Regions from separate parts of the Homo sapiens genome. Here region 2 is linked to region 1. Evidence: fine-mapped expression QTL. Tissue or cell type: sun-exposed skin. Region 1 holds a variant in brackets; the other region holds the start of a gene. All regions are shown on one strand. Distances are between the middles of the regions.

Region 1 (2,688 bases):
CCAATAGAAGGCTGTTTAATCTATATTGAAAATCTGTTGTTTAGTGTAGCCACCTTCATCAGTGATTTTAGCTAGATCTTCTGGATAACTTGCTGCAGCTTCTCCATCAGTGTTTGCTGCTACACCTTGCACTTTTATGTTATGGGGACAGCTTCTTTCCTTAAACCTCACAAACCAACCTCTGCTAGTTTCACACGTTTCCTCTGCAGCTTCTTCACCTCTCTCAGCTTTCCTGGACTGGAAGAGAGTTTGGGTCTTGCTCTGAATTAGACTTTGGCTTAAGGGAATGTTGTGGCTGGTTTCGTCTTCTATCCTGACCACTTTCTCATTTCAGCAGTAAGGCAGTTTTGCTTTCTTATTCGTGTGTTCACTGGAGTATTAGTATTATTATTTTCTTCAAGAACTTTTCCTTTGCAGTATATACTATTATTTCCTTCAAGAACTTTTCCTTTGCATTCACAGCTTGGCTGGTGCAAGAGGCCTAGCTTTCAGCCTGTCTTGGCTTTCAGCATGCCTCCTCACTAAGCCTAGCCATTTCTAGCTTCTGATTTAAAGTGAGAGACATGCGACTCTTCCTTTCATTTGAACACTTAGCGGCCATTGTAGGGTTGTTCATTGTCCTAATTTCAGTATTGCTGTGTCTCAGGAAATAATAGGGAGGCCCAAGAAAAGGAAGAGAGGCAGGGAAGAGCTCATCGGTGGAGCAGTCAGAACACACACAACATTAATTGATTACGTTCGTCATCTTCTGTGGGCGCAGTTCTTAGTACCCCCAAAACATTTACACAGAACAGGGTGACTATAGTCAATAATAACTTAATCATACATTTAAAAATAACTAAAAGAGTGTAAATGGATTGTTTGTAACACAAGGATAAATGTTTGAGGGGATGGATACCCTATTTTCCACGATGTGATTACTACGCATTTGCATGACTGTATCAAAGCATCTCATGTACCCCATAAGAATATACACCTACTGCGTACCCACAAAATAAAGAACAAAAATTATTTTAAAAGACTAAAAAACAACAAAAACAATTGCAATAATAACATCAAAGCTCACTGATCACAAATCACCATAACAGATATAATAATAATGGAAAAGTGTAAAATTGGTGAGAATTTCTAAAAAAAAATGCAGTATCTGCGAAGCACTACGAAAATGAGGTGCAATAAAACGAGGTATGCCTGTGTGCCCTTAACAAATACTTGCAGAATGAAAGGAGGTAAGGGTGAATGTTCCCGTAAGTGAAGAGGTTGGTAATCTAAACGTCACAACAGAAGGAGCCAGAAGCTAAAAACTTTAATTGGTATTTGTCGTGTATTGGTGTGGGTTTAAGGTCTCAGCCTCTCTAAGCCAGAGAATGTGAAAAACTGGATAAAGAAGGCCCATGGGCACTTGGGAG[G/C]GGGGAGGCATCTCCTGCTTTTGAGAAAACAGAGCGTAACACTCTCCAACCTACCCAACCCTCATCTCCCAACTCTTCTCCATCATAGGACCCAAAAGGGGGAAACATGCCTGGACCCACAGACTGCGTGAGAGAAAGCAGCTGGTGATTTATGAAGAGATCAGCGACCCTGAGGAAGATGACAAGTAACTCCATAAGTGAACCTTCGGCTCACCCTCCACATCCCTGCAGATGTGCTATTCTGTTATGGTACTGGTATCCCATCTGTCACTTGTTCCCCAAATCATTCCCTTCTCATAATTTTCTACTGTACAGCATTGAGGCTGAACGATGAGATTTCCCATGCTCTTCCTACTCCCTGCCCTGTATATCCAGGGATCCTCCCTACCCTGGATGCTGTGGGCTCCCAAACCCCAGGTCAGCACTGATATGCGGGCCACACCTTTCTCTAGCCTAGAAATTGATAACTCAGGCGAGGAAGTCACTGTGGCATGAACAGATGGTTCACTTCGAGGAACCGTGGAAGGCGTGTGCAGGTCCTGAGGTAGGGCAGAATCAGAGTGTGCAGGGTCTGCAGGTCAGGAGGAGTTGAGATTGAGTTGCCACGTGGTGGGAACTCACTGCCACTTATTTCCTTCTCTCTTCTTGCCTCAGCCTCAGGGATACGACACATGCCCATGATGAGAAGCAGAACGTGGTGACCTTTCACGAACGTGGGCATGGCTGCGGACCCCTCGTCATCAGGTGTATAGCAAGTGAAAGCAAGTGTTCACAACAGTGAAAAGTTGAGCGTCATTTTTCTTAGTGTGCCAAGAGTTCGATGTTGGCGTTTCCGTTGTATTTTCTTGCAGTGTGCCATTCTGTTAGACATTAGCATTTTCGTTGATGAGCAAGACATGCTTAATGCATATTTCGGCTTGTGTATCCATGCACCTACCTCAGAAAACAAGTATTGTCAGGTATTCTCTCCATAGAACAGCACTACCCTCCTCTCTCCCCAGATGTGACTACTGAGGGGAGGTCTGAGTGTTTAATTTCCGATTTTTTCCTCTGCATTTACACACACACCACACACGCACACACACACACCAAGTACCAGTATAAGCATCTCCCATCTGCTTTTCTCCACTGCCATGTGTCCTGGTCAAGCCCCCCTCACTCTGTTTCCTGTTCAGCATGTACTCCCCTCATCCGATTCCCCTCTATCAGTCACTGACAGTTAATAAACCTTTGCAAACGTTCCCCAGTTGTTTGCACCTCTCATTATTGTGCACACAGC
Region 2 (2,688 bases), 120 kb before region 1:
AATAGAGGAATGAAGAAACAGACAACATACTTACCTGGGGTTTGGCCATTTCCTGCTCTTCTTGGGAAAAAGCAGAGATGTGTGACGGCCGAGCTGGAACAAGTGGAGAAGAGTACAGCAGATGAGGAGACCCCATCAGACTTTCAGTGCCCAGAATTAGCTGCCTAGCAATCCCCTCACATCAGCTGGCCATCAGACTGCTCTCTGGAAGAGTCTGGGCAACCATGTGATTTTAACAATCTGTGTATTATTCACTCTTCATGTGAACATTGAACACAAAAGGTTTTATATACACATATATTAAATTGTGTACTGACCCATAAAGTGTATTTGTAGGTATTTTCCTTAAGGAAATAATTTATCATAATGTATCATAATTTCTCTGCACGTACCCACGTCTCAGCATTGATTTCAATAATGCCAAACTTAAACGATCCTCTATGACCCATAAGGGATTAATAATAACAAAATATAAAAGATAAAATGCTACAAAGCTGTTAAAAGCGTTATATGGAACTGTACAGTATCTATGCACTTTGTGGTATATGTATCTCAACTAAACGTTTTTAAAAGGTGTACAAAAAAATCCTAAGGTGAATTACAAAGTAGGTTTTAAAACTGCGGGAATCCATTTTAAAGTTATATGTTAAATGTTTAAAAGGCATACCCCTATACACACCAAAAATGTCTAAAAACGGACATTTAAATGTGTGGGGGAAGAATTAGTTCCTGTTGATTTTCTTTTTCTCTATTTCAGAATTAATCTATATATTCAAATGTTATTTATTAAATGCCAAAAAAAACTACACTCTAAAACTATTATCCCAATTACATTTTACCCCCATCTCCCTCAGACCCCGCACCTACCCCTCCTCCCACGCCCCCAACTTGGGCGAGGCCCGGGGTCAGGTGAGACCTCGCAGGTGCCTCTCCTTCCTTCTGCTCACCTCACCGGGGCCGCCTTGCCCAGAAGCCGGAAAGAGGCCTTCGGGTGCGGGGGTGCAGGTTCACTTCGGCCGGAGCATTCACACCAGGCCCCCACCTCGGGGCTTGGGCAAGGGGAGAGGGCAGAGGGAGAAGCGGGGCGCGTCTAAAGAGGGGTCTGAGGGATGCGCATGAACCTTTAGGGGCAGGTCACTGTGCTGGAAAACGTGTAAAAGTCAAAGTTTAATAAGCCCCATTTAATCCTGCTTAGCCCCCATAACTTTGTTCACCAGTGAGCCCCTAGAACCTCGTCCACTGACCTCTCGGTCCCCCATCACTCAACCCCCAACTCCCACTTCACTCATCCCACAGAACTCCCCATCACTCAGCCCACGACCCCTAGCACTTGCCCCCTCAACCTCACTCTCTCTCGATAACAGATTTTCTGCTCGCTGCTCAGGAGACCGTTACAAAGCCTGGCCCCAACAAGCACTTCCGCTTCGGGACCGACTCTTTGGCACCGCAGCCTAAAGGGCTGCAGGGGTCGGTTCTGCGCACGCTCAGTGGCGCCTTTGAGACCCCGTCCGCCAATAGTCAACATGGGGCCGCAGCGCAGGCGCAGAGGGAAGGTAGCCTTGCCGGTGACGTCACTGCTCCAGGCCAGATGGCCGTGCCCACCGTGTCCTTTTGCTGCTGGGGCTGCGTCGCAAAGCGGTTGTTTACTTAGTTATGCAGAGGCAGGCACTCCTAAGACTTCAGACACCAATTTTCTTACGGCAGGGCGGGGAGGGGAAGTGCCCAACTAAGGAAAAGATTCTAGCAGGCGGCAATTTCGCACTTTGAACTTGGAGGGCAGCAACAGGGTTGCAGGTGTAAAATAACGGGAAGGCGGGATGCGTGGCTAAATTGCTCTGCGTGCACAAAGAGTAGGAGGTAGGGAAAAGCCACTGGCTTCATCCAGTGGCCAGGACTGGGAGTTTACGTTGTAGCGTTTGAAGGACGGTGGGTCGGTATGCAGACAAACAAGCTGAAAAATAAACGGCGATGTGGGACACACACACCGGGGGTGAAGGGGTATATTAAGTGGTGGCTAACAGGTTGCTTTTTCTGGATGAGTAGACAGTGTCAGTGTGTTGGGAGTGTAGGGGGTGTAGGCTGGGGCCAGGTGCTGTAGGGCCTCCTTGGCCAGGGAGCTCATATTTCATTCTGGACATATGGGAAACCATAAGAAGGATCCGATCTGTAAAGACCAGTCTGAAGCAATCTAGCATTATATAGTAACGTTAAAAATACACATATATTGGGCTGGGTACGGTGGCGTGCGCCTGTAATCTCAGCACTTTGGGACGCCAAGGTAGGCGGATCACCTGAGGTCAGGAGTTCAAGACCAGCCTGGCCAACATGGTGAAACCCCGTCTCTACTAAAAACACCAAAAATTAGCCGGGCTTGGTAGCACGCCTGTGATCCCAGCTACTCTGGAGGCTGAGGCAGGAGAATCGCTTGAACCCGGGAGGCAGAGGTTGCAGTGAGCCAAGATCACACCACTGCACTCCAGCCTGGGCAACACAGTGAGACTCCATCTCAAAAACAAAAAACAAACAAACAACAACAACAACAAAAGGAATGGAGCTTCCCAGTAGACAAGACAAAGAAAGAAAGAAAGTAAAAAAGGAACTCACATCTGTTGCTCCCTGACACATCAGCACCTCCTGGGTATACAATTTATCCACTCTCTCAATGCATTAGGAGGTAGAAAATAGAAA

The links. PIP is the estimated chance that this variant, and not a neighbour inherited with it, causes the effect.
Region 2: ZNF182 starts here. The variant in region 1 is fine-mapped to the expression of ZNF182 in sun-exposed skin (GTEx, PIP above 0.99). The same link has a PIP of 0.9 or more in tibial nerve and transverse colon.

What each region holds. Positions count from the first base shown.
Region 1 is chrX:48,118,037-48,120,724 of GRCh38, forward strand. It overlaps the pseudogene SSX6P. Among named protein-coding and RNA genes, the nearest start is that of SPACA5B, 11 kb to the right of the region's middle. The variant G/C (reference allele first, on the strand shown) is at 1,410.
Region 2 is chrX:48,002,561-48,005,248 of GRCh38, forward strand. ZNF182 (zinc finger protein 182) reads right to left here and starts at 1,429. Exons shown (of 6, transcript NM_001007088.2): 1 at 1,349-1,429; 2 at 948-1,142; 3 at 35-93. The coding sequence starts at 49. It also overlaps a transcript of SPACA5 not described here. RefSeq lists an enhancer at 1,045-1,354.